Homo sapiens: one gene and its partners. The protein of the gene in region 3 purifies or fractionates together with the protein of the main gene of each other region. This does not show direct contact. Each region holds a gene or a part of one and is shown on either strand. Other genes may lie near its edges.

Region 1 (7,022 bases), about 130 Mb from region 3:
ACAAGTCAGTCAAGTGATTTTTTTACAAGGGTGCCAAGACACTCACAGGTGAAGGAACAGGCTGAAAGAAACAGTGCTATGTCAACTGGATAGTCACATGCAAAGGAGTGAAGGTGGACCCCCTATATCACACCATATTCAAAAATTAACTGAAAATTGATCAAAGACCTAAATGTGAGAGCTAAAACTATAAAACCCTTAGAAGAAAACACAGGAGTAAATCTTTGTGACTTTGGATTACACAACGATTTCTTAGCTATGTGATACCAAAAGCATGAGTAAAAAAAGAAAAAGATAAATTGGACTTCATCAAAATTAAAATGTTTTGTGCCTCATAGAATACCATTTGAAAAGACAACCCACAGACTGGGACAAGTCTTTAAAAATCATATATCTGATAAGGTATATATATAAAAATAACTCTTTCAACTCAAAAATAAAAGATAACCCAATTAAAAAATGGGCAAAGAGCTTGAATAGACATTTCTCCAAAGAAAACGTATGTATATGGCCAATAAGCCTATGAAAATTTACTCAACATCATTAGCCATTAGGGAAATGTAAATCAAAACCACAAGCAGATACCACCTCATACCCACAAAGATGGCTAAAATAAAAAAGACAGACATGGCAAGTGTTGGTAGGAATGCAGAGAAATAGGATTATCATACGTTGCTAGCAGGATTGTAAAATGGTGTGGCCACTTTGAAAAAGTGTGGTGGTTCCTCAAAATGTTGAATATAGAGTTACCATACGACCCAGCAGTTCTCCTCCTAGGTATACACTCAGAGGGAATGAAACCACACATCTATACAAAAACTCATACAAGAATACTTACAGCAGCATTAGTCACAATAGCCAAAAAGTGAAAACAACCCAAATGTTCATCAACTGATGAATGCATAAACAAAATGTGGTGTATCCTTATAACTGACTATTACTCAGCACAAAAAGGAATGAAGTACTGATAGATGCTATAACATGAATGAGCCTTGAAAACACGCTATAGGTGAAAGAAGTCAGACACAAAAGACAACACAGTACATGACTGCATTTATGCGGAATGTCCAGAATAGGCAATTTTTTTTTTTTTTTTTTGGACAGAGTCTCGCTCTGTCAACAGGCTGGAGTGCGGTGGCGCAATCTCGGCTCACTGCAACCTCCACCTCCTGGGTTCAAGCGATTCTCCTGCCTCTGCCTCCTCATAGCTGGGACTACAGGTGTGTGCCACCACGCCCAGCTAATTTTTTGTATTTTAGTAGAGACGGGGTTTCACCATGTTGGCCAGGATGGTCTCGATCTCCTGACCTCGTGATCCTCCTCCCGTCTCGGCCTCCCAATGTGCCAGGATTACCGGTGTGAGCCACCACGCCTGGCCCAGAATAGGCAATTTTATAAGGAAAGAAAATTACTGGTTGCCAGTGTTAGGAGGAAAGGGGCATGGGGAGTGACTGCTAATGGCTATGGGGTTTATTTTTCAGCTGATGGAATGTTCTGGAATTAGTCTGTACAATCTTGTGACTATACTAAAACAACTACATTATACACTTTCCATGGTGAACTTTATGGTGTGTGAACTCTGCCTTAATAAGAAAAAGCAAAGAGAGCAAAGTGCATCTAAGTGACTATACAAAATTTTTAATGTACAATTAATGCCAACAATATATGTCCTTTCAGCTTATGAACAATGCACTGGAAACATGGGCTCTTTGCGTCCCCGAACTTTCATAATTTTTAAGCATCATTAAATCACCTCAACTTGATATTGCTTGAAAAAGTCTGTGCCACCGTAAATCCGTAACCTGTTTAGACGAAGTCTGGAGCCAACACAAACATTCAGCATTTTTCCAGAGTACATTTTCCTACCACATTTAGAAAACCTGTTTATTATAAATGTAGTTATCGCTCTGAATTGGAGTAATACATGCTAATATCTAGCCTCCTGAACCCAATTTCACGCTGACCTTCTAGGCTGAATAATAAAAGCAGTAATGTAATCATCCTCAGGGCGCTTTCTGTGCATCTCGGCACCTATCTCAGTGTTCCGCATACATGTGTGCACAATTGTATATATGAGAACACTTGTGTGCACAAGCACCTGTCTCTCCACTGATCCTTAAGAGATGGAGCTCTGTCTCACAGACTTGTGCATCTCCAATGCCTGGAACGCATCGGGAAGGACCAGATCAAGGTTTATTGAATAAATTAATAAACCCAATTATGTAATTAATCCTCTACGTACATGCTCTTTCTCTCTCTTATCTGTGTCTCTCTCTCTTTAAATCACTTTCTTAAATGTTGTTTCTACAGACTTTCCCAACAGTCGTCTGGGAAAGATGGGAGGGTGTTACAACCGGAAAACGACAGGTATACCCCTAGATCATGCAGCTATTTAGTAACTAAGCTGGTACAAAAAAGCAGACTGCCCTGCAGTGTTATTTTCATTTTTTAATTTTTTAAACAGACTGTCGCCCAGGCTGGAGTACAGTGGTATGATCAGAGCTCACTGTAGCCTGGAACTCCTGGGCTCAAGCCATCCTCCCACCTCAGCCTCCTGAGTAGCTGGGACCACAGGGGCACACCACCACGCCCAGCTGATTTTTATATATATTTTTTAAGAGATGGGGTCTTGATGTGTTGCCCAGGCTGGTCTTGAACTCCTGGGCTCAAGTGATCTGCAGGCCTCAGCCTCCCAAAGTGCTGGGATTATGGGATTACAGGCATGAGTCACCACGCCCAGCCAGCTGTTTCAACTCTTAGGGGTGAATAAATCAGAAAAAAAAAAAAAAATCCAAGGTTTTAGACTCTACTTACGGTTGTCTGAAATCCAGCAGTATTACCTATCTGACAGTGATAAAATCTGACATACCTCCAGATCCAACTGTTTCACCACTGCTGTCTATGTTGATCTCCCCTGAGGGTTCGGAACGGTTAGATGTCTGCCTTTGGTAGGAAAAAGCTTTAAAAAAAAAATTACAGTCATTAAGCTAAAAATGTGTTATACTTTTAATAACATTAGCAGGGCATGTTACTCATTTAAGTTACAACATTATTACTGAAATGAATTTCAACCTCTCTCATGAAAAAAGTACAATGTTAAAGCAGGTAAATAAGGAGGTAAGAAAAACATTTTAAATATTCCACAAATTTTTAAAAGATAATCATTCAATATTTGAAAATGTATTGATCCATTACCTGATGAATTTCTCAGTAAGGTACCAGGGTGACTCTCTATTACAGAAAACGTAGGACCTAAAAACAAGAAGAAAGATAAGAAGGAAGAAGTCAGTATCATAAACTGAGTAATTATCCACGGAGGAATCAAAATCAAGATAATTAGGCTCAAAGACAAGGCAGACAGATTCTAAATTGCTGACAACTGATAACGTTCTCCTTGGGTATGCATTGAAACGGAGATTCATCCTAATACGACCAATGCCCACCAATGCAAAGCAACAGTAAAGGTAGCCACCAATGTCACCTCTCAGATATGAACATCTGAAATACTTTTAAAAGGCCTTGCAAATGTATCAGGCTTGCCTATTTAAAAAGTTATTTGGCAAGAAAATATACTAAAAATGGTTTTGAGAGTAAAAATAGATCATGCCATACCTATTACTTTTGCCACAGAAAAGAACGATTCCCTTGCAGTCTATTTCTCAATGAGCACAAGACCGGTTTACTGTCCCAATAGTCGCCATACTCACTGTTAATCAGGAGCTCCAGGATACTCTCCGACGCACTGGTAACAGTCAACTCCAGACAGTGTGCAAAGCTGGACAGTGCCTTGCTGCGGACAGTAGGCGCCTTGTCTAAGCAACGATCAAACATAATTTCCTGCACCAGGAACTTATGCTTTAAGAACTTCTGATGCTCCAAGGAGAGGGTGTTATCCACCTCTCTTTCAGGCAGTTCTAACAGAGCTAAGACAACATCAAGAGTAAAAACCCGGTGTGGGATCTGGTAAAGCAAGATCATAAGAATTGCCATCAGATAGGAGTAAGAACCAAAGAACCCTCCTCATTCAGACCTAGAAAAAGAGACCCTTTTAAAAAGAGTTTAAAAAGGACCCAAGGTTTTATGCAGAGCTATCTCCTACCTTGGAACTTCGGGAGTATTTGTAAAGCCAGGCAATGAACATAGCGTATTCCCCACAAGGAAGTTTACTGAGCAGCTGGACTAGGGACTGGGCTGCAAAAGTACGATACTCTGATTTATCTACCACCTGAAAAGCAAAAAGAGAAGTTGACCAACCAATATCCACCCGCAGGATGGCTGAAACATATTCTGTAATATAAGTTGAAAGTCAGTGAGTACAACTAGTTCAATGACCTTTAAATGTTACGTAAATGACTAATAAATTTTAGGTTTTAGAACACTTCAAAACTAATCTAAAGGAAATCTATAAACCATCTCTCCAGAAAAATGCACATACAAATTTAGTATACAATTTCAGAGAGTTTTTAGATCCCCAGGTTTCATAAGGTTCAAATTAAGAATCATTTGTCTAAATGGTTATAAAAATGTAGAGATCATCATGGAAATTTGAACACTGGATGTTTGATAATATTAAGGAATTACCGTGAAAGGATATGATGGAATTTGCTTCAAAACACAATCCAGTATACACATGTTGGGGGATGTGGGGTAGGGGTTTAAGTGACACAAAACTGTGGAACTCGGTGATGGGTATGTGGTGGTTCACCAGCCTATTTTCCCTGTTTCTGTGTGTATGTTCAACATTTTTCCAAAACAAAGTTTTTTTGTTTTTTTGTTTTTTATAGAACACTTTTGTCTAGGGGACCATCTAGTGAACATTAAATAAAACCACTTTAAGTAACAATGCACACTCATTCCCAAGAACAAATACCCACACTCACACACACACACACACATTTATCTTCACACACGATATACTTCCATGTTATTAATATTACTAAGGCAAACAGTACCTTGGCACAGATGTGCTGCAGTAAGATACGGACGACTGGGAATATACTCTCCTTTAATTCATCCACAAGGGCGCTTTGTAAAAGAAAAACACATCTACTGTTCACAATACAGTCAGCGACTGTCCCCAAAAACCACTACTCCTATATTTAGAAATCCTAGTTATTAAAACACTCTACCTCACGCTATAAGAGTGGTTTCAGTAGAATGAAGAGTGAAGACATAAAATGTCATCGTAGAAAACTGTGAAGTAGTTCCCGTGCAGTTTTGAGAGCTGCTGCAGAGTAGCTAAGTCATCAGGTAAGAACAAAAATGTAATCTTCATACAATTCTTTTGACTACTTACTAAATTTCATATGAAGATGTAAAATATATCCTTTGGGGATAAATATAAAAATTGACTAAGACACAGTACCACCTCATGGTAGCTCAGTGAAATGCATTAGTAACATTACTTCTCCAAACTTTAACCCAATAAGAAATTTCTTTTTTTTTTTTTTGTAGATGGAGTTTTGCTCTTGTCGCTCAGGCTGGAGCGCAATGGTGTGATCTCGGCTCACTGCAACTTCCCCCACCGGGTTCAAGAGTTTCTCCTGCCTCAGCCTCCCGAGTAGCTGGGATTACAGGTGCCCGCCACCACGCCTAGTTTCTGTATTTTTTAGTAGAGACAGGGTTTCACCATGTTGGCCAGGCTCGTCTTCAACTCCTGACCTCAGGTGATCCGCCCGCCTCGGCCTCCCAAAGTGCTGGGATTACAGGCATGTGCCACCGCGCCCCGCCTCAAGAAGAAATTTCTACAATGCCCAGACTTGATCCATTTTTAGTGATGTTTATCTGTAACATTACATGAAGACTATTGCGACTGGCATATGAGAAACTCTCATGGAAAAAACGAAACGATCGTGTTTTCACTTAAAACATTTTAGTTACTTAATGTTTTAAAAAGTCCTTAGTGAGAGACATTTGCTCAGTCACAAGATGACGTCATACACACCCCATGTCTCCAACTACCCTGCACACTGTGCACACCCAAGGCATGCACACACTTGCACATGCACACCATGTCTCGGCACCACCTCCACACTGCACGCCAAAAATCAGTGAAGGAGGGAAGGAAAAGCCAACAACGCAGCAAACATGTCCTTGCCAGTGAAACTAAGGCATGAGAGTTTTTAAGTGAAGCTGAGTGACCCATGAGAGGAAAAGTAGTCTAACACTTATTGCTACGGAGGTAAAAAGCAACTCAATCCTTTCCTTCAAGTCATTTCTACAGAGGGAAAGGAATAGAAAAGTGCAAAGAAACAAGAAGAAAGTGGCAAAGAACAAAAGCAAAGAGCTGCAAAGTAGAGAGCAACAGAAAAGGGAAAGAGGTGAACTGGCTGCAATGAAGCAGACAAGGGAAAGGAGGAGAGGCCACCATCCTCTCTCTGAGGCTGACCCACATATTGAGCGCAAACAAGCTGGAGGCTGGCGCTGGCCCGTGTTCTGCAGATTCCTATCTCTTTAACAGTGCCCCAGCTGGGAGCCTACCAACAGAGACCCAGACACATAAAGCACATTAGCTACGAAGTGCTTGGTTTTCACCCCCAAAACCACCATCAGGCCAGAAATTTTAAGTCTACATGTATCAGAAATCTTAGTGCAGGGCCCAGAGTACTGAGGGAGACTGACAGGGTGAAAATTCACGATTTGTGTGCTTCACCTGATAAACTGGACCGCCTGGTTTCTACAGTTGATGACTTGGGAGGTAACAGCAAGGGGGGCACGATGGGATCCTTCACCAACTTCTAACATTAATATTACACTGAGCATTTGATGGAAAACACAACTGATGACCTAGAAGAGAAAAGAAAATTCAATTTAAGATCGGATGGAGAACACAAGGGTCTCAGACATAGTGATGCAGACTGTAGTAAACCATTTCAAGCCATCTGAAGGTAGGTCAGGCTGGCATAATTGCTGGCTGAACACTAGGGATATATTTCTTAAACAATGAGCAGGGATACAATAAATGCACAATGTAAACAGTGTGAAAGAATGGCTGACAGATGATATGTCTGATAAAAACAATA
Region 2 (7,022 bases), on a different chromosome or scaffold from region 3:
TGGAGTGCAGTGGTGCAATCTCAGCTTGCTGCAGCCTCCACCTTCTGGGTTCAAGCAGTTCTCCTGCCTCAGCCTCTTTTTTTTTTTTTTTTTTTTTTGAGACGGAGTCTCACTCTGTCGCCCAGGCTGGAGTGCAGTGGTGCAATCTCGGCTCACTGCAAGCTCCACCTCCTGGGTTCACACCATTCTCCTGCCTCAGCCTCCCGAGTAGCTGGGACTACTGGCACCCGCCACCACGCCCGGCTAATTTTTTGTATTTTTTTAGTAGAGACGGGGTTTCACCGTGTTAGCCAGGATGGTCTCGATCTCCTGACCTCATGATCCACCCGCCTCGGCCTCCCAAAGTGCTGGGATTACAGGCCTGAGCCACCGCGTCCGATCCTGCCTCAGCCTCTTGAGTAGCCGGGATTACAGGCGCCTGCCACCACGCCTGGCTAATTTTTTTTTTTTTCTTGAGACAGAGTCTTGCCCTGTGGCCCAAGTTGGAGTGCAGTGGCACAATCTCGGCTCACTGCAAGCTCCATCTCCTGGGTTCGCGCCATTCTCCTACTTCAGCCTCCTCAGTAGCTGGGATTACAGGCGCCCGCCACCACGCCTGGCTAATTTTTTTGTATTTTTCAGTAGAGACAGGGTTTCACCATGTTAGCCAGGATGGTCTTGGTCTCCTGACCTCGTGATCCACCCGCCTCGGCCTCCCAAAATGCTGGGATTACAGGTGTGAGCCACCGTGCCTGGCCCCAGCTAATTTTTGTATTTTTAGTAGAGATGGGGTTTCACCATGTTGGCCAGGCTGGTCTTGAACTCTTGACCTCGTGATCCGCCCACCTCATCCTTTGAAAGTGCTGGGATTGCAGGTGTGAGCCACTGCGACTGGCCACAAGCCATTCTTCAACTCATTTACCTGTTTGTGGCCTGTCTCCACCCTAGAATGTGAATTCTGCCAGGGCAGGGACCATACTTATGCCCTCTTTTGTCTGCTTAGTAGAGTGCCTGGCACATAGGTGTGGACGTTAAAGTGTTTGTTAAATGCACATGTGATCTGATGACCAAACTTCTCTGCTCTCATGCATAGTTGGCTGAGAAAATACGGGGAACTGTGCTGGGCAGAGCTCCTGTGGATTCAGGTTTTCACATCAAGCAGGGTCCATGAGGACACCTGTTCACTTGGTAAATCTCCTTCCTGGCTTGGTCAGCTCCCTTCCTGCTTTCTTATGTCTGCTCTTCCAAACCTCTGCAGCTTGAAGTCCTGATTTCCTGGTTTCTAGTATTATCTTTTTCCTTCTGTCATTTTCCACACACTACCATGATGTTCTTTTTCTTTTTTTTGTCCTTTGTTTTTTTTTTTTTGTTTTTTTTTTTTAGATAGGTTCTTGCCCTGTTGCCCAGGCTAGAGTGCAGTGGTGCAATCATGGCTCACTGCAGCCTCGATCTCCCAGGCTCAAGTGATCCTCCCATCTCCCAAGTAGCTGGGACTGCAGGCATGTGCCACCGCACCTGGCTAATTTTTTGTATTTTTGGTAGAGATGGGGTGTCACTGTGTTGCCCAGGCTGTTCTCAAACTCCCAAGCTCAAGTGATCCACCTGCCTTGGCCTCCCAGAGTGCTGGGATTATAGGTGTGAGCCATTGCACTGGCCAGAATGTTCTTCTAGTACTGTCATGATCCTACTCTCTTTTATCCATTTATTTATTCATTGTTGTTAGTTGTGAATTGTGTGCCAAGAACCATGTTAAACTTTGAAAAAATAGTGCCAAGCAAAGCAAATGATAATCCCCACTATGGTAGGACTTCCTCTGTCATGGGAAGACGGGTCCAAGAGAGTAACCGCATGGGGGTGTAATAAATATGCATTTGGTGTTTACTTGTGTTAAGCACCTGTTTTATGTGCTTTACACATATGAATGCAGAGTCCTCACAAAAACCTTGTTAGTAGAGGCGTTAGAGATGTACTCTGAATGATAGTGGTTCCTGGCAGATCAGAATCCAGCCTCCACCCCTGCGTGTGACTTTGTGTAGTCAGAAACTGATGGCCAGGCGAGGTGGCTAACGCCTGTGATCCCAGCACTTTGGGGGGCCAAGGTGGCTCACGCCTGTGATCCCAGCAGTTTGGGGGGCCAAGGTGGCTCACGCCTGTGATCCCAGCACTTTGGGGAGCCGAGGTGGCTCACGCCTGTGATCCCAGCACTTTGGGGGGCCGAGGTGGCTCACGCCTGTGATCCCAGCACTTAGGGAGGCCGAGGTGGCTCACGCCTGTGATCCCAGCACTTAGGGAGGCCGAGGTGGCTTACGCCTGTAATGCTAGCACTTTGGGAGGCCGAGGCAGGAGGATCATTTGAGGTCAGGAGTTCGAGATGAGTCTGACCAGCATGGTGAAAACCTGTCTCTGCTAAAAGTACAAAAAAAATTAGCCAGGTATGGTGGTGCATGCCTGTAGTCCCAGTTACTTGGGAGGCTGAGGCAGGAAAATCACTTGAACCTGGGAGGCAGGGGTTGCAGTGAGCCGAGATTGTGCCACTGCACTCCAGCCTGGACAACAGAGCGAGAGACTGTCTCAAAAACAAAAACCAAAACCAACCAACCAACCGAAAAAATCACCAGAAACTTATAAGGGATTTGAAAGAAAATGTATGGTCCTGTGGAGAGTTTGGGGGGCTTAGTTTGTTTGAGATGAAAGCAGTTACTTATTTATGGTGAGCTAAAGAATGTTTAGCTCCAGGTGGAGGAAACCTGGTGTTGGAAGGATTGGAGTTTTTACAAAAATTAGCCGGGCGCCTATAATCCCAGCTACTCAGGAAGCTTAGGCAGGGAGAATTACTTGAACCCAGGAGGCGGAGGTTGCAGTGAGCTGAGATTGCGCCCCTGCATTCCAGCTTGGGTGACAGAGTGAGACTCCGTCTCAAACAAAACAAAACAAAACAAAACAGAAGGTTCCAAGTTGGGACCATAGAGCAGAGGAGGGCAGGCAGCTGGAGAGGGAGGCTGGCCAGCATGGAGGCCTCCCTCTGGCTCCGTTTAGGATTTTGGGTTTTTCCTGCCACTGTTAGGAAAAACCCAAAATCCTAAACAGAGGCACTGAGCAGAGCGTGGAGAGTGGACGGGAGGGGAGTGAAGGGCAGGAGGAGCCCTGTCAGTGCAGAGGTGAAAGGGGAGGTGGTGGGGCCAGAATGGGGGTGACTGTGGAGAGGAACCCCTGGGTTTCTGGGCAGGTGGGTTGGGGGCTATTTGGAGTTCAGTGTGGATGCATTCAGTATGAATCTTGGTGAAGCCATCCAAGCGATGTTTGAAGAAGGCAGCTGAACATGTGGGTTTGGGCTCAGATGGCAGGTCCAACCTGGGGAGGTGAGAAGACAAGTGAAGCCCAGTAGTGTCTTGGGAGTGGGCAAGCCAGCCAGGCTGAGGGTCACTGGAGAGAAGGGCCACTTCTGCAGCTCAGCTTCCAGGCCGCCATCTCCTCCATGTTCCCTTCTTTCTGGACCAGCTCTTCAGGTCCTGAACACCCCCGAGGTCCTTACACTCCGTAGACGACCATGCTGCTGTTTCCTCTCCCTTCCTCCCAGATCTGACAAACACCCTTTATCCTTCAAGAGCTAATGGAAGTGACTCCCCTTGGGGATGGCTTCCCAGCCTCTGCCACTCCTTCGTGCTACCATGGTGCCTAAAATCTTGCCTCTCCCCAGCACGCGCCATGCTTTGGCCATGTTTAGATCATGCTCATTTTCCTGAAGAGACGTGTCCAGTCTCTGCTAGCTGCCTTCACGTTCCCTTCATCTGTCTGGTGAGCCTCTGCGTTTTTCAGGCTTAGCTTTGACATTATCTATGCATGTGTTCATCAAATATTTACTGGACACCAGTGTCAGGCACTGAACAGAAGGCTGGAATTACACTAATGCTGCTCACACAGTTCACTAAGGGACACGATCACACTAAGGGAGCGGCACAGAGGCCCCAGGAATGGAGGGGCTCTGAAAAAGAGTTTGCGTGGGGACAGCTGGGGGTCGGTGTTCCAGGCAGATGGAAATGCAAAATTGAAGAGCTGGAAAGACACCTAGGGGCTTCAAAGTGTCGTTTGTGGCTGGGCACGGTGGTGCATGCCTGTGATCCCAGTGCTTTGGGAGGCTGAGGCAGGAGGATCACTGGAGGCCAGGAGTTTGAGACCAACCTGGGCAACATAGAGAAACCCTGTCTCTACAAAAACATTTTTTTTTTGAGACGGAGTCTCGCTCTGTCGCCCAGGCTGGAGTGCAGTGGCGCGATCTCGGCTCACTGCAAGCTCCGCCTCCCAGGTTCATGCCATTCTCCTGCCTCAGCCTCCCGAGTAGCTGGGACTACAGGCGCCCGCCACCACGCCCAGCTAATTTTTTGTATTTTTAGTAGAGACGAGGTTTCACCGTGTTAGCCAGGATGGTCTCGATCTCCTGACCTCATGATCTGCCCGCCTCGGCCTCCCAAAGTGCTGGGATTACAGGTGTGAGCCACCGCACCCGGCCTTTTTTTTTTTTTTTTTTTTAAAGTGTCATTTGCTGAGAAGGAATACAGGAGATGAGCCAGCGTTGGGGAAGATGTTGGGTAAAGTATGGAAGTAAAGTGTTTGGGGACATTTGAATGTACTCTGTGGACAGCTATGAATGCAGCCCCAGAGCTAAGGAGAGAGAGCTGGTCGGGTTGGGTTTGGGGCTCATTGGCTTATGGTTGGCAGCTTGGGCATGGGATGAAGGAATGTGCATGGCGGGGGGTGGAGCGCCTGGCGCACTGACGTTTAAGGGGTGACAGAGGAGCTGGGGCTCCGGGAGGCTGAGGGGAGCAGAGGAAGGATGGCGACTCACCTGTAACTGTTTCCTGAGTTCTCTGCTCAGAGGATGGAGACCTCAGCATTTTATCTCTGCCTTTCCTACCCCTGAGGTTCCCTTTTCTTCTCTGTGTCGGGGATCTTCCTGCTGGAGTCTGTCAGCCTCTGGCGCCTTGTGGAGGGAGCCGCTGTGCTGCCCTGGTTGTTTGTAGACAGTGTGCCCTGGGGGCCTTCCACTTCCAAAACAGGTTTTTGTTATAGGAAGTAGGGGGAAACACAGAGACCTGTCTCTGCCCCGAAATACCAGGGACAACCGGTGAGCCCACAGCATAGCTAGAGCTGCCCGTCTCGGGAGGTGCTGGGCAGAGACCAAAGATGGGTGGGGCTGCCCTGGAAGAAGCGAGTGCAGACTGGGCCTTGGATTCCCCCTGTCTTTGTGTTGTTTCTTGCAGCTGGATCAGATCTGCATTTCTTTTGACGAAGGCAAGACCACAATGAACTTCATTGAGGCAGCGTTGTTGATCCAGGGCTCTGCCTGCGTCTACAGTAAGAAGGTGGGCCCTGCTTGACGCTGGTCTTGGCATTTTGGTGGCCAGTGGGACCACAGTCGGCTCTCCTTCTGGGGCAGGTGCAGTGGTCGTCCCGTCTGTGACCTACCTCCCTCTCTCCTCAGGTCTCAGCCAATTCCTCAGCACCTTCCAACACCAAGAACAATTTTTAATTTAAAATCGCACAGCCAGGCAGGGAGGGTCTTTTGTGCTGTTGGGCTCTGTTGTCTTGGGGGAATGACACCTGCTGTGTGCACTTGGACACAGCCCAGGGTGCCACCTGCACCCACCTTCCCCTTCCCCGTCCCCTACTTGTGGGTGCCTCATTGTCAGCACCTAGAAAGTCCACAACCACCACCCTCACGGTGGGGCCTCTGTTCTGTGGAGGAGAAGGACAGGAAGTGAGTGACGGGCTCTGTCCTGCAGGCCCCGTGGCGGCAGGAGCTGGGACAGGGCAGGGCCAGGACAGGAGGAGGGGCTGGGGTGATGCTGGCGGGAGCACACGGGCGGAGGAGCAGCAGGGCTGCAGGCCGTCGGCAGAGTGGGTGCCAAGCACGAGGGGCCTCACCACCAAGGACCGTGTGATGAGGCACACTGTGGGAACCACAGTGCTGTCAGGGTCACACGTTGAGAAGGCCACGCTCGCGGCTGCGTGGACCATAGAGGGCAGAGGAGAGATGTGGGTGGCCTCAGCTGGTAAAGTAATTCTCATGAGATTCCTGGTTTGATTTGAGAATTATTTTTGGAACCAAAATTGGTGGTTTCTTGTACTGGAGGTTTGGTGGTGGTGGCCAGGCCTCGTGGGGGCACCGATGGATAGCTGGGAAGGCCTTGGGGGTGGGCCCCTCCTTTCTGGGTCCTCACTGCCTGCATCTGGTCACCAGGTGGAATACCTCTACTCACTCGTCTACCAGGCCCTTGATTTCATCTCTGGAAAGAGGTGAGTTCTGCAGCCACTCACTGTGCTGCCCTGCATGTGGCCAGGGAGGCCCCTGCAGCTCCTGGGATGCCCACGGGATGTGCTTCTCTCTCAGGCGGGCCAAGCAGCTCTCTTCGGTGCAGGAGGACAGGGCCAATGGGGTTGCCAGCTCCGGGGTCCCCCAGGAGGCAGAGAATGAGGTGAGTTTCTTTGGCATGTGGTCCCCGCCCACTGTGTGTTTGCCTGGGCTCCGCCCCCACGAGCTCTGTCTCCCTCCAGTTCCTGTCGCTGGATGACTTCCCTGACTCCCGGACTAACGTGGATCTCAAGAATGATCAGACGCCCAGTGTGAGTCCTGGCCTGGCCCCTCTTAGGCTGGGGTGAGGTCAGCACTTTCCCTGGGGCTGTGTTGAGCTGATGGGGTGTGGGAAGGTGTCATTGCCCCATGTGGGTCCTGTTCTCCACTGGAGTGGAAGGGTGCCTGGCTCACCCACCCTTGGCCTCCATGCAGGAGGTCCTCATCATCCCCCTCCTGCCCATGGCCCTGGTGGCCCCTGATGAAATGGAGAAGAACAACAATCCCCTGTACAGGTAGGGATCTGAGCCCAGCGACGGGGAGGGAGGCCTGCCTGGGAAGGGTCTCTACAGCAGGCGTGTTTTTGCCAGCACAGCCGTCAGGGTGAGGTCCTGGCCAGCCGGAAGGATTTCAGGATGAACACGTGCGTTCCCCACCCCAGAGGGGCCTTCATGTTGGAGCCAGAGGGCATGTC
Region 3 (7,589 bases):
CAAGCCGTTCTCCTGCCTCAGCCTCCTGGATGGCTGGGATTACTGGCATGCACCACCATGCCTGGCTAATTTTTGTATTTTTAGTAGAGATGGGGTTTCAACACGTTGGCCAGGCTGGTCTCGAACTCCTGACCTCAGGTGATCCACCCACCTAGGCCTCCCAAAGTGCTAGGATTATAGGCCTAAGCCACCACGCCCAGCCCCCTACCAATACTTTATTGGAAAACCTAAACCCTTAAGATCTTCAATTTTAGTGCACTCCCAGCTCTGATGTTATACCACCAGCCACCAGAGAGAGCAGCCATCCCAGGTCCCACTCCAAGCTGCCCCAGCTCCATGAGCTGCCTACCAGCTCTGTCGCCTTAAGGAGGCTTCCATGTCTTCCAGGTGCACATCCCAACTGACTGCAACAATGAATATGTTCCAAGCCAAATACTCTGTACTATAACTGTGTTTTCACCTTTCTCTAGGCCACTTCTAGGACTAATGAGATCACGATCTCTGCCCATTTACCTTGGCCACCATCTAAATTCCAAGCCCCCAAGGTCATCAATTTGCACACTGCCCCTCATCTCCATCCTGCTCACTTCATATTTTACTTTGACTCCATTTCTGACTTCCAAAGCTTCCACTTACCGTGCTGTATAGAGTCAAGAGCTATCATCAGAAAAACTCCTATATCCTTGACTTCTTTGAAGTTTCTCTTAACTTTCTTCTTCTTTTTTCTTTTTTTTTTATTTTGAGATGGAGTCTCACTCTGTCACCAGGCTGGAGTGCAGTGGCGCGATCTCAGCTCACTGCGACCTCTGCCTCCTGGGTTCAAGCGATTCTCCTGCCTCAGCCTCCCAAGTAGCTGGGATTACAGGCGCATGTCATCACGCCCAGCTAATTTTTGTATTTTTAGTAGAGGTGGGTTTCAGCATGTTGGCCAGGATGGTCTTGATTTCTTGACCTCGTGATCCGCCCCCCTTGGCCTCCCAAAGTGCTGGGATTACAGACATAAGCCACTGCGCCCGGCCTGTCTTCCTCTAATGAAAACTAGGCTGTTGCCTCTGGGTTCTGTTTCCCTTGCAGATCTCCCAAAGTAAGAGCTATTTTTCTTCCCACAGCTTAAAGCCTGGGAATAGAATAGATGCCCAACTTGTTTCCCCTTGCTGCTTCCAAATTGCTTCTTCCTCTTCTTCCTTTAAAAACCATAGCTCCTGGCCAGGCGCTGTGGCTCATGCCTGTAATCCCAGCACTTTGGGAGGCTGAGGTGGGTGCATAACAAGGATCGAGACCATCCTGGCTAACATAGTGAAACCCCATCTCTACTAAAAATACAACAAAAAAATTAGCCGGGCGTGGTGGCGGGCACCTGTGGTCCCTGCTACTTGGGAGGCTGAGGCAGGAGAATGGCGTGAAGCCAGGAGGCGGAGCTTGTAGTGAGCCGAGATTGCACCACTGCACTCCAGCCTGGGCAACAGAGCAAGACTCCATCTCAAAAATAAATAAATAAATAAATAAATAAATAAAAATTTTTAAACAATTAAAAAAAAACACAGCTCCTTAGAAGAGCATGTCATCTGGCTGCCCATTACTTCTTCTGTTCCTGTCACCTTCCAACCTTGTAGTAACTCCACATTCATTAAAGATTTTAACACTTGGATCACTATTTCCCACCTCATTTCTGTCCTCATACATGGGAACTTCAACATAATGTTGTGACCTAGGTTTCCATTGTGGCTTCTTACAACTTCACATGAGCACTCTCACTAATGCCATCTTCTCCTAGACTTCATTTACTATAGATGGGCTGATGATTTCCTATTGTTTCTAGCCCAAACATCTCTTCTGAGCTCCAGGCCCATATATCCAACTGGATATTTCTACTTGGATATTTCATGGAACTTCAAATTCAGCTAGTCAAAATCTGAACTCTTCATCTTTCTCACAAACCTGATTCTTCTATTCTTAAAATCATGTTATATAGAATTAATGTCTACCATTTACCCAAGCTAGAATTTGGTGGCGGAGGGCGGGGGGGAGTGTGGTCATTCCAGACCCCTCTGTATTTCTTAGAGACCACATCCCATTAGTCACCTCCTCCCTAAGCTGCATCTATAGTCCAGGAGTCCAGAGGTTTTCTGACTAAACCTCCCCAGACAGTAAACCTGGTAGCTAAGAGGGCAAATTCTTGAGTAAGCATGCCTGTGTTCAAATCATAGCATCCAGTTTATACTGTGTAATTGTTGGCAAGTAAATTATGTTTTCTGGGGCTCCATTTTCTTACCTGTGAAATGGGTATATAATAATATTGCTTACCTCTTGAAGTTATTGGGAGGAATAATTATGATATGTAAGATGCCTAAAACATAATTAGTACTCTAACTTTTAGTGATGTTAATAACATCAATGATAATAATGCCCGAGTGAAGCCAGCAGTGGCACCCATCTGGCTGCATGAATCAAGGAAAGAGATTCAGAAGATATCCATTGCTTTAAAAAAATCAAACAATTTTTTTTTAGAGACAGGGTCTCACTCTGTCACCCTGGCTGGAGTGGGTGCCCCTACTGGCTTCATTCAGGCATTATTATCATCTTATATATCATAATTAATTGTGGTTTCACACAATCATAGCTCACTGCAGCCTCAAACTCTTGGGCTCAAGTGATCTTCCCACCTCAGCTTCCTGAGTAGTTGGGACTACAGGTGCACACCACCATGCCTGGTTAATTTTTTACATTTTTTTGGTAGAGATTAGGGCTCTCCCTATGTTGCCCAGGCTGGCCTTGAACTCTTGGCCTCAAGCCATCCTCCAGCCTTGGCCTCCCAAAGCCCTGGGATTATAGGTGTGAGCCACTGTGCCCAGTCTCAACTGCTTTTTAATCAGATTTCCAGCCAATCCTTCATTCAGACCCACTCTGCACCCTTGGCTTTAAAGGAACCCAGTACCTCCAATTCTTAAGAGCATGGGTTCTGAGGGGCAAATTAGTTCACTCCTTACAGGCTTTCAGTCCACAGGCATTTAACTTTTTATGCTCTACACCTGCACTGTCTACTGTGGGCGCCAACGAGCCACACTATCGTGCTGATAAAATTTGAAATATTTTTGCTATCTTGGTTTAAAATATTATTAAAATAAATTTTACTTATTTTTACTTTTTAAATGTGGCTACTGGAAAAATTTAAATTACATATGTGGCTGGTATTATGTGTCTATTGGACAGTGTTGTGTGCGTCTTACAAAATTGACATTTCTCATCTGCTGTCATGTTTTCTATCATTGCATTTAGTCTTGTAGTTTATATACTTTATTTCTTTATTTTCCTTTTTGGGCACTGTCCCAGGAAAGCAAAGATAAATGCATATGTTACATCTGTCATGTTTAACTGGAAGTTCTACCTAAGCTTTTCACAATGTAGCTCCTGCTTATATTTGTGCACTTCGTGTCCTGTCACTACTCTATGGCCCTGCCAAAATGAATTACCAATAGCTTTCTGAACACACCAGGAAGCTTCCAGATTTGCCTTTATTTTTTTGGCCTCCTTTTTCCGGAATACCTTTCTAACCCCTCCCACCTGTCTGCCTATAAGTTACTCATTTTTCAACAGCTAACTCAATTTCACCTTCTCAAAGGGGCTTTTCTTGACTTTTCCTCGTACCAGTTGAGAAGACTGCTCGGGGATCCAGAATATTTCCTGCATTTTTTTTGTTTGGATAATTATCTGTCCTACAAAGGGAATCCATTTTATTCATCAGACCCTGTAGTGCCAAGTTGAGGGTCTAATACATAGTAAAAACTAAAATAATGTTAAATGAACGAATGAAGAGAGTAACAAAGAACGGTGGGATTGTAGAGAAAGGAGAGGCTGACTGAAAACGTTTCGAGAGAGCAGTGTTTTTAAGCTGTTCTTCAGAGAAGTTTTTGACAACTGGAGATGGTGTCAGGAATTTTCCAGGCAGTGGGAACAGGACAAGCAAAGCTTCCCTGAAGACAAGCAATATGCTAAAGAAATAGCAAATCATCCAGTTTGGAAGGAGCATTGGTAAGACCAGATCATGCAGGGCGTTGAGGTTATAGAAAGGAGTTTAACTATTGTTCTGAAGATAATGGAGAGTTAAAAGGTTTAAGCTGGAGAGAAAGAGAATTAGTCTTGTGTTTTAGCATTATCACCTGTGGCTGCAGACGGATAATGAATGCGAGGGGCATGAGTGGAAGCTGGAAGACAGCGAGATCATGGAGATGAGGAGAAACTGGATGTTGTGATCTACGGGTGGGTGGGGGGCAGTGGTGGTAAGTGGGGATAGAGATCCGGGCACGACCGCCGGATGTGTAGGCGGTAGAATGCACAGGACTCAGTAAAAGATGAACATGGGGAGTGAGGGAGGAGTTTTTAGTTAGTATGAACGGGAAGGCGAGGGTACCATTTACAGCGACGGGTAACCACGCGGGAGGAGCAGGTCAACTCCCGACAGTGGAGGTGAAGATGCGTGCGCCTCGCGCACCTTGTCCCTCGCGCGACGCCGTCCGCGCCGCCCGCGGTTCGGTCGGGAGCGGCAGCCCGTGCTCCGGTTCCGGTTCCGGTTCCGGCTGGCGTCTGCACCTGCGACCACCGTGAGCAGTCATGGCGTACTCCACAGTGCAGAGAGTCGCTCTGGCTTCTGGGCTTGTCCTGGCTCTGTCGCTGCTGCTGCCCAAGGCCTTCCTGTCCCGCGGGAAGCGGCAGGAGCCGCCGCCGACACCTGAAGGTAAGAGCAGGCCAGCTCCCTCTGAGCTTCCCGGCGCCGAAGAGTACGGAGAACGCTGCTTGAGGGAGGGGTGACTCTGAGAGTCTGCAGCCTTCACCGAAATATCCACCAAACTGACTGGAGAGGGCGGGCGAGACGGCGTTGAAGGGCCAATGCCCACGGTTCCGTTGTTATCAGCGGGTGGCGGCCCAGATGGTTCTGCTGCTGGAAGGGTCAGGAACGTATGCATGCAGGTCTGTGCATCCTCTAGGTGGCCTTGCGTACTCCCGTTTAGGCGCAGTCCCTTCTCTCTTACCCCGCTGGCTTAACTCATCTCGTCACCATTTGTTCACGTGCTTTGAGTCAAGGGTTCCCAGTTGGGTTTCCCTCTTTAGGTTTTCCGTGTACTTTCTGACGCGCCGCTTGGTACGAAATCAAGGCAAATGGAATTGGTACAGCAAACCTTAAGTCGTTATGTTTTTTCAACTTGGTGCTGGGCGCTCACTGCTTCAGGCTCTTCTTGTGCCTTTAAAAATATATCTTGAAGATTTTAATAACCCCAGTTTCAGTTACTGAGGTGGTTATGAACAAATTATTACGTTCCCCTTATTGAAACAGTATTTATCTGTTAATTCTTCGTTGTTGGCATGATGTATGTGGTGTTTAAAAATTCATCCTCTTAGCTGCACTGGGGCCTTTTACAGAATGAGTGTAAAGGCACGGTGCTGAAGGCTGGGAGAAGGAACCAGAACAGTTTTCTATAGGTCATGAAGTTCTACTGGTAACTTTCTCCTGTAAATTATCCTTGTAATATCTTTGAGACATGATTTTACGGTGTCTGAACACTTCCAGTAATGTTTAAACTGTTGATTGCTGGACAGCTCCTTTTGAACTGTAATCCACTTCCGTCTGCTTTATGCACATTGACTGTAGTTCCATTCTCTTGAGCATCATACACACTATAAATGCAAAGCACCAAGCTTTAGGGGTGGAGGGCAGGTTGAACACATAATTCTGTTTACAGAATTTGCCTGATAATCTTTATGCTTGTAAGACTATCCACTTGGGACGGACTTCTAAAACATCTTTGCGTATTTGTTCTTTTTTTTTCCTTTCTGTCTTATTGCAATAATCCCAAAGATTTTTACCTGCTTTGTCTAATGATATTGTCTACTTTGAAGAAGAGTCAATTCATGATGATCCTGAACAGTGAAGATTCTTCGAAAACTTTTTTTTTTTTTTTTTTACTTTCCATTATGGTGAATTATCTTGAACAAGTACTATTGACTGTGAGTGGGAGACACTCTTCTGAACGTTGTAGAAAATGTAGAGTGGAGATTAGACATGGGTTGTTCCCTTGAGAACTCAAGTGTTGGTATTCAGTGTTCTCATGTTAGGATCTTTGTACCTTCAGTTCTCTTTATTCCTGAAGTGCTGTGCTTTTCCCTCAGTGCCCTTCTCATCATTCAAATTTCTGCTCAAATGAAACCTCCTCAGAGAGACTTCCCCTGATGACACTAACTAAAATAACTCTTTTCTCCCATCATTCTCTATTTTATCATGTTTTATATTCTTCATGATAGGCATCACTATATGATATGGAATATTCTTAAGTGTTTACTTGTTTGTTTTTTTGTCTTCACCTTCTAGAATGTAAGTTTGCAAGGGTAGGGACTTTGTCTTGTTTACCACTGTTTCTTCAGTACCTGGCATATAATGGGCAGTCAATAAATACTTTAAGATTATTAAGCTACCAATACTGTAAATTCTGTTTTTGACAAGGAGAAGCTACTGAAGTAGTATAACCTAGGAAAAAACTTACCTTGAATGGTACATTCCAGTAACTGAAACTTGCAGCAAAAAATCTTAACCATTTTGGGGTTACATACACCATTGAGAATCTTATAAAAGCTATGTATTTTCTTTCTTTCTCTCTCCTTCCTCCCTCTGTCCCTCCCTCCCTCCTTTCCTCTCTTCCTGGCCCCCTTTCCCTTTCTCTTTCCCTTTCCCTGGGTCTCACTCTGTCACCCAGGCTGGAGTGCAGAGTCATGATCACAGCTCACTGCAGCCTCTACTTCTAGGGCTCAACTGATCCTCCCACCTCAGCCTCCCAAGTAACTGGGACTACAGGCACATGCCACCATGCCTGGCTAATTAAAAAAAATTTTTTTTGTTTTTGGTTGAGATGGGGGTCTCATTGTATTGTCCAGGCTGGTGTCGAACTCGTGGGTTCAAGTGATCCTTCTGCCTCAGCCTTCCAAAGTGCTGGGATTACAGGCTTGAGCAACTGCACTCAGCCTAAAACTGTATGTTCTCTCTAGAAAAAGGTACATACTCTTATTGTACTCAGAATTTCAGTATCAATTCAGAGAATTCTCAGAACCCAGAAATCCCTGCTTTGAAGAAAGGAATAACCCTGAGTATTTGAAAATTCTTAAAAATACATGTTGTTATGTCTTCCATTTTTGCCCATTGATGTGCATGAAACAAGCACAGTTCCCTTTCCACATGAAAGCCTTTAAGATAGTCTTTTAACAAATATTTATGATGTACCATATCACATACTGTGCACATAGTGTATAGACACTATGTATTCCAAGAAAAAATGAGCGAACTCCATGCTTTGAGGCGGCCACAGTTTAGTAAAGGAAAGTAGACATGTCAACAGATAAATGCAAAACAGACATGTTAGCAGATAAATGCAAGAGTGTCAGTCACAGTTACTCAAGTCTGCGCAGGGAACAATGGAGACATGTATGCAATGGTCAGTGTTATTGGGACTTAAGAAGGGTTTCATAAACCAGGTGTGACAGCTCATGCCTGTAATCCCAGCATTTTGAAAGGCTGTGGTGGAAGGATTGCTTGAGCCTGGGAGTTC
Region 4 (7,440 bases), on a different chromosome or scaffold from region 3:
CATGCACAGGGACCATACCTGGCTAATTTTTGTATTTTTTGTAGAGACGGGTTTTCACCATGTTGCCCAAGCTGGTCTCAAACTCCTGAGCTCAAGCAATCTGCCCACCTTGGTCTCCCAGAATGCTGGGATTACAGGCATGAGCCACCACCACGTCTGGCTTCCCCCTACTTGTTTTTGATATGGGGTCTTGATTGGTCACCCACGCTGCAGTGCAGTGGCAACATGACAGCTCACTGCAGCCTCGAACTCCTCGGCTCAAGTGATCCTCCCACATCAGCCTCCCCAGTAGCTGGGACTACAGATGTGTTCCACCATGCCTGGCTAATTTTTAAAACTTTTTGTAGACAGGAGGTCTTGCCATGATGGCCAGGCTGGTCTCAAGCAATCCTCCCCTCTTGGCCTCCCAAAGTGCTTGGATTACAGGCATGAGCCACTGTGCCCAGCCAAGATACCCATTCATACCAGGATTTTCCTCCCTGTCACTGCTAATAGCTGTGTAGGCGCAGACAAGGGCTTTCAGGTGAGAAAAATTAAAGCAAGTAACTTTAGAGTTTCGACTCAATCCAAATAATATGAATACCTGTAATGTGTAAAGTATTGTGCTATAAAGGAGCTTAAGATTTGAGGCAGATAGTTCATCTGGAATCATTCCAAGATTCTATGTCGTACACCTAAATAATAATCCACAATGATTGCATTTTATTTATTTTTTGAGATGGAGTTGTGCTCTTGTTGCCCAGGCTGGAGTGGCCAATCTCGGCTCACTGCAACCTCTGCCTCCTGGGTTCAAGCGATTTTCCTGCCTCAGCCTCCTGAGTAGCTGGGATTACAGGCATGCGCCACGTAATTTTTAGTAGAGATTGGTCAAGCTGGTCTTGAACGCCCAATCTCAGGTCATCCACCCGCCTCTGCTTCCCAAAGTGCTGGGATTACAGGCATGAGCCACCGCACCCGGGCCTAGTGATTGCATTTTAACTGGCTTGCCTAGAAGTGAAGAGTTTCGCCTTCTACCTTCCTTATGCTTCTTTCTGCAGTGAACCTCCAATTTTTGCCAACTATTTTGTTTTAACCATGGGCAAAGAGGTTGAAAAATTTTTATAAATAGTTGACAATTTGTGCATATATATATATATATATATATATATATATGTATTTTTTTTTAGATGGAGTTTCTGCTCTTACTGCCCGGGCTGGAGGGCAAAGGTGTGGTCGTGGCTCATTGCAACCTCTGCCTCCCGGGTTCAAGCGATTCTTCTGCCTCAGCCTCCAAGTAGCTGGGATTACAGGCACCCACCACAACGCCTGGCTATTTTTTTGTATTTTTAGTAGAGATGGGGTTTCACCATGTTGGCCAGGCTGGTCTCAAACTCCTGACCTCAGGTGATCTGCCTGCCTCAGCCTCCCAAAGTGCTGTGATTACAGGCAGGAGCCACTGTACCCGGCATTTAGAAATATTTGGTTAATTGTCTGTGTTCATTGTTTCATCAGTAGAACAGCATTAACAGTGAGCTTGCAAATTTATGAGCTACAAACCTTAGCCCTAGATCATTTAGACTGTGATCACTCTGTGTTGGGGGCATTTTCATTATTATCATCTGCTTCTTAATGGAAGACATTTATTCATTTAACAAATACTTAATTAGCACTTATATGACAGATATATTAACACACCATTTGCCCCATCTGAGGAGACAAACTCCGATGAGAGGCCTTTTAGGATTAATGCCTCACTTTAGAAATACGGATGTGTGAAAGGTCAAGTGAAAGTTGTGTCTCTTCTGCAGGCACACCCTACTCCCCCTTATTCCAGAGTTATTCATTAATGATGTGAAACAAACTTGAGGTGTTTAGTTTTTCAGAGATTTCAGAAATGGGAAGCCACTGATGTCGCCTTTTACTTTGGAAATGTGTTGGCAATTCGGATCATCAGAAAGATGTCTGCTTCATCTCTGGAATATCTAAGTCTACTTACAGAAAACAAATCTTTAACAAACATTTGCAACCACATGAGATTTGGTGCAGTTGAATTCATTTTAGTATTTTTAAAACGTGTAACACTTTTCTAAAGAAAATATCCCCTTGCTTGTTCTTCTGCTTCTTTTTTAAAAAAATAGAGACCTTGGTCGGGTACGGTGGCTCACACCTGTAATCTCAGCACTTCGGGAGGCTGAGACGGGCAGATCACCTAAGGTCAGGAGTTTGAGACCAGCCTGGCCAACATGGTGAAACCCCACCTCTACCAAAAATACAAAAATTAGGCGGGCTTGTAATAAAAATAAAAAAAATTAGCGCATGCCTGTAATCCCAGCTACTTGGGAGGCTGAGGCAGGAGAATCGCTGGAGCCCGGGAGGCAGAGGTTAAGGTGAGCCGAGATTGCGCCATTGCACTCCAGCCTGGGCAACAAGAGCGAAACTCCGTTTAAAAAAAAAAAAAAAAAAAGAGCACGGGTCTTGCTGTTGCCTAGGCTAGTCTCAAGTGATCCTCCTGCACTAGCCTCCTAAAGTGTTGGGATGACAGGTGTGAGCTACTACACCCAGCCCTCCCTTGCTTTTTGCGTCTGTTACCTTTTTCTTCCCAAATTTCCATGTGAGAGTTAAAATTGTCTTTTTTTTTTTTTTTTTTTGAGACAGAATCTCGCTCTTCCTCTGTCACCCAGGCTGGAGTGCAGTGGCAATTCTCCTGCCTCAGCCTCCCGAGTAGCTGGGATTACAGGCGCCTACCACCATGCCTGGCTAATTTTTGTATTTTTAGTAGAGACGGGGGTTTCACCATATTGGTCAGGCTGGTCTTGAACTCCTGACCTCAGGCAATCCATCTGCTTGGGCCTCCCAAAGTGCTGGGATTACAGGCGTGAGCCACCGCGCCCGGCTTCTGTCCACTTCTCAAGGCCATCTCAAATAACTTTTTCTTCAGGAAACTATTTCTCAAACCACTATAATTTTTTCCTAAGTTCTCTAGAATTCTTCCTTTGTTTAATCCCACTTTTTGCTTCACTTTCATTTTAGGAGCTAGGCGTATTTTTAAAAAGGCCCTTTGACCTCAAAGGATACACGTGGGTGAAAAACCACCTTCCTCTAAATTTATTTTTCACTCACTAGGAAGAATGGTTTACTGTTAATAGCGGGTGGAAAGAAGGGACACTGAGTATGAGGACCTATCTGTACTACCTAATATAATTTATCTTTTGATCTACTCTGAGAATGACGCGAGCCTAATCTTCACATTGGAAAATCACGAGAGGAAAAAACCCTTCGGAGGTCTACAGGCACAAGGAACCCTGTCTCCACGCTGTTTATAGCAGCTGTCTCAGGAATCCTCTGCCTAGAATGAATGTGGGAGAGGTTTCGTGGCGCGGCAGCTGCAAAGCAAGGAATCTTTCCCATTCCTCGTCGACTCGGTCCCCTCCCCTCCCCTCCCGAATGGCGGCAGCTGCCGAGGTATCCCAGTGGAAATCTCCAAGTCTCCGCCGAGAGCGGCGGGCGGGCAACAGCTGAAAGCAGCCAGGGGTGGGGACTCCTCGCTCCCATTGGGCAGGGACAGCAGCCTCACTGGCTCCAGCGCCGTCACCTCTCTGGCTCGTAGAGGTGCCTCAGGTGTTCTTCTCCAAGTCCAATGAGACACCTAGGCAACGCAGCGCGTGTTCCCTCCGCGCCAAGAGACCCTACGGTAACTTAACAACAGCAGGAGCGCCAAAATCCCCGCCTCAGGACTTGGCAGAAGCACCTCCCGAGGTCCGAGAGTGGGAGAGGGGAAAGTGTAGGCCCTCGGACGGAAGGGTCTCTCCTCGCCGGGCCGGGTACACACCTGGTGCTACCAGAGCAGCGCGCCTAGTGCAGCCGGAAGCCCCAGCCCAGCACTCCGGCTGGCTCGGGGCCCCCTTGGCTGTCCGCGCGTCGTCACCGCGCCCCCGCCGCGCGGCTGCCTCCGCCTTCGCGCCCTCCCGCCCCGCGCACTCGCGCTCGCGCACGCGCACGCCGCGCCCGGCAGCACTCGGCGCTGTCATGGCGGCCGGGAGCAGCTTCAGTGGGCACACGACAGCCGCGCGACCCGTGGCGGGGCGAGCTGTGGCAGTAGCATCCTCACCACTCGCAGCAGCCTCAGCCGCGGCGCCCGTAGCGCCAGCAGCGGCTGCTTTTGCAAAGGCTGAGCGCAGGGGCGGGGCGGGCCAGGAAGCCATGGAGTTCTGTGCAGCCGCGGACTCCCGGGGAGCGGACTAGGGAAACTTGGAGGCTGCGACCAGGTGCACTGACCTCTCTGTCCTCCCTTCTCTCCCTGCGGTGGCCGCTGGGTTTCTCTGGCCGCTCCCCTCCCTTCCTGCCACCACACACACCTCCCCACCCCTTCCCGTCGAATCTCAGGTGCCTGAGAGAGGTGCTTCACTCCTCCCACTGGGCCGAGCATTTAGAATAATCACCGCCCCCTTCCCCCGCCTTTTCCTGCCCTGGATCTCCGCCGCCACCTCGGTCTCGCTGCTCCTGGGCGGGGGGTGAGGACGAGTCCGGAGTATCTGGGTGAGGAAGAACTTTCTACCTCTGTGATAGCTTGTGGGCCCCCCTTCTTTCCTCCGATCCCTCCTTTCCCCGCGACAGTTTCTCTTTCTAGTGCACCTGTGAGGAGAGGTTACCCTGCGCCTAGAACCTGCACGAGAGTGGGGGAGGAGTGAGCCTGTTCGGGGGCCTCTTGGACCTGCCTTCACCCAGAACCCAGCTTTTTGAGCCCGGGAGAAGCGGGTGGCTAGTAGTGGGGTGCCTTTAGTAACTTACTTGACCGACAATAACTATTTCCCTCTTGTCCCCTCAAAACCCTAAAACAAAACCTAGCCTATTTAACATATATTTAATCTTCCAATAGGGTTTGGCGTTGTTGTCAGCCTCGGGGAGAGAGATTGGACAAATATTCTCCAAGAGGAGGAGGGCGACGCCAAGGACTTTCCACATCAACTGCTTTGGGGTATCTCCACAAGTTGGAAGAGGGACCCTTTCGTTTTGCATTGCGTGTGTTGTGCTCATTACCAGTGCAGCGACTGCCGTCCCAGGGTGACTCTGAGTTGTCCTTTATCGTGAGCTAGCAATGGCTAGCGAAGACAATCGTGTCCCTTCCCCGCCACCAACAGGTGATGACGGGGGAGGTGGAGGGAGAGAAGAAACCCCTACTGAAGGGGGTGCATTGTCTCTGAAACCAGGGCTCCCCATCAGGGGCATCAGAATGAAATTTGCCGTGTTGACCGGTTTGGTTGAAGTTGGAGAAGTATCCAATAGGGATATTGTAGAAACTGTCTTTAACCTGGTAAGTCCATGAATATTTTATAAGCATATACTCTTTTCAGTGGGTTGGGGAACAAGATCTTAAAGCTGGAGCCATGTGGTTTACTCACACTGATGGTGACTTTTTTCGTGTATAGGGACACAAAATTCTACTCACCTAAATGAAACAATTTCATCTGTTTTTTAGATTGAAGGGAATTGTGCAAACTTAGATGATCCAGGTTTTGTGAAAGTGAACACATCACTTTTGTGCTAAGGAAATAATTGTTGCTATGGAAGTATTGGGGGGAGGTTCTAGCGGAGGAGTTATCTCTAATTTTTTTTTTCTTGGCTTGTATGCCTAAGTCTGCGTTTCCCTTTACCACTTTAAATAATTTCTTGTGACCTTTTTTTGGACTTGAGAATTAATGTCTTTGATTCTGTCGAAGTTATGTTTTGCTACAATAAGTTTAAAAATTTGTTTGTAGTGCTGATGCAAGATTAATTTGCTGCAAAGTTAGTATTTTTAATTTTGACTAGTTTTATTTTTAGACATAACTAACAAAAGTTAAATTGGTGATGAATTTAGGATTGCATTTAAAGTAATCTTGTGAAAATTGAATGGCAATATGAAAAAAGGAATTGAAGCAGATACAGTATAATTTTTATGTGTTTTATAAATTCATGTCTAGCAGGAAAGCATAGTTAGTCATTGGAAGTTGCTGATTATACTAAGATGAGCTATGAATGCTTTTTTTCGGGTGGGGGTGGGAGGGGGATGAGGCCTCTCTATGTTGCCCAGGCTGTTCTCAAACTCCTAAGTTCAAGCTATCCTCCTGCTTCAGTCTTATGAGTAGTTGTGGCTATAGGCATGCATCACTGTATAGGGCTTAAATTGTTTTTAAATTGAGGTATAATTCATATATTATACAATTCTACCTTTAATTAATTCATTAACTTATTTATTTAGAGATGAGGTCTCACTCTGTTGCCTAGGCTAGTTTTGAATTCCTGGGTTCAGGCGATTCTCCCCTCTTGTCTCCTAAGTAGCTGGAACTACTGGCATGCGCCATTGTGCCTGGCTTGGTTATCATTTATAATGGAGACTTTTTAGATTTCTTTATTCCAGCCTCTCTTGCCCATCAACTTAAAGAATCAAAAGGAAATCTGGCCCTAAAATACTTCCCCCTTTTCTACCTACCCACCTGTGTTAGAGGATAACAGGACCAAATATAAACATGCAGTTAATTGTAATAACTGTTTAGCACCTTTCCCTTTGCCTCTTTTCAAGGTTAGGCTTGTTTTATTCTGGGGCAGTTAATTATTTCTTTCACTAGACCTTCTCTAATGGTCTGGTCACCTGCAGTACAACTTCTAGAATAAGAAAGTAGCTAGATGGAATTCTGGCCGGGCGTGGTGACTCACGCCTGTAATCCCAGCACCTCAGGAAGCCGAGGCGGGCACATCACTTGAGGTTAGGAGTTTGAGACTGGCCTAGTCAACATGGTGAAACCCCATCTCTACTAAAAATACAAAAAAATTAGCTGGATGCGCTTGCTTGTACCCAGGAGGTGGAGGTTGCTGTGAGCCGAGATCGTGCCAATGCACTCCAGCCTGGGTGGCAGAGTGAGAGACTGTTTCAAAAAAAAAAAAAAAAAAAAGAAATTCACTTACTTTTGAAGAATGAAAGCTTTGAACAATTGGATATTTCTATGTCAGTTTATTGGGAGTTTATGTATAAACACCTATAGACACACACATGCATATTTTAAAAAACTGCATATTATGGAAATGTTCAAATATATGCAAAAATAGAATAGTATAATGAACTCTGGTATCCGTTGTGCAGCTTCAACAGTTGTCAACATTTTGGGGATCTTGTGTGTGCGCATGTGTGTGGGGCTTTCATATGTAAGTCTGAGGAAGATAAATGGTAAATTGATTGCTTTACCTCAAAATAGACTTGAAACATTTCCTTTCTGATTTTTTGTTCTTTTTTAAAATGTCATATGCCTTCAGTGAGAAACAGAAATTTGTGGTAGTAATATAATCCATAATTACTTATTTGTGTGTGAAGACACAACATCTTTTGGCAGAAGGAGGATTTGAACTCCTGTTCTTTAGAATGTGCTGTGTTGGAGTGGATGACCAAACGTGAGTCATTTGCATTTTTATCATTAAAGAAAATCCAAA

The links.
Region 1: the proteins of RIC3 (region 3) and NCAPD3 purify together in Homo sapiens (affinity purification with mass spectrometry; 4 studies listed by BioGRID and IntAct, with this or other methods). This does not show direct contact.
Region 2: the proteins of RIC3 (region 3) and NCAPH2 purify together in Homo sapiens (affinity purification with mass spectrometry; 4 studies listed by BioGRID and IntAct, with this or other methods). This does not show direct contact.
Region 4: the proteins of RIC3 (region 3) and LRBA purify together in Homo sapiens (affinity purification with mass spectrometry; 4 studies listed by BioGRID and IntAct, with this or other methods). This does not show direct contact.

The regions. Positions count from the first base shown.
Region 1 is NC_000011.10:134,199,947-134,206,968, forward strand, and holds part of NCAPD3 (condensin-2 complex subunit D3), read right to left. Parts: intron 6,787-7,022; coding exon 6,653-6,786; intron 5,026-6,652; coding exon 4,953-5,025; intron 4,226-4,952; coding exon 4,100-4,225; intron 3,961-4,099; coding exon 3,708-3,960; intron 3,253-3,707; coding exon 3,196-3,252; intron 2,960-3,195; coding exon 2,870-2,959; intron 1-2,869.
Region 2 is NC_000022.11:50,511,210-50,518,231, forward strand, and holds part of NCAPH2 (condensin-2 complex subunit H2), read left to right. Parts: intron 1-4,510; exon of another isoform or gene 4,511-4,538; coding exon of another isoform or gene 4,539-4,565; intron 4,566-5,237; coding exon 5,238-5,339; intron 5,340-6,217; coding exon 6,218-6,273; intron 6,274-6,367; coding exon 6,368-6,452; intron 6,453-6,531; coding exon 6,532-6,600; intron 6,601-6,763; coding exon 6,764-6,843; intron 6,844-6,918; exon of another isoform or gene 6,919-6,923; coding exon 6,924-7,022. UniProt on the Homo sapiens protein: Regulatory subunit of the condensin-2 complex, a complex that seems to provide chromosomes with an additional level of organization and rigidity and in establishing mitotic chromosome architecture.
Region 3 is NC_000011.10:8,166,009-8,173,597, reverse strand, and holds the start of RIC3 (protein RIC-3 isoform a precursor), read left to right. Parts: upstream 1-4,572; 5' UTR 4,573-4,608; coding exon 4,609-4,732; intron 4,733-7,589. UniProt on the Homo sapiens protein: Molecular chaperone which facilitates proper subunit assembly and surface trafficking of alpha-7 (CHRNA7) and alpha-8 (CHRNA8) nicotinic acetylcholine receptors.
Region 4 is NC_000004.12:151,012,277-151,019,716, reverse strand, and holds the start of LRBA (lipopolysaccharide-responsive and beige-like anchor protein), read left to right. Parts: upstream 1-4,432; 5' UTR 4,433-4,515; intron 4,516-4,855; 5' UTR 4,856-5,074; coding exon 5,075-5,290; intron 5,291-7,440. UniProt on the Homo sapiens protein: Involved in coupling signal transduction and vesicle trafficking to enable polarized secretion and/or membrane deposition of immune effector molecules. Involved in phagophore growth during mitophagy by regulating ATG9A trafficking to mitochondria.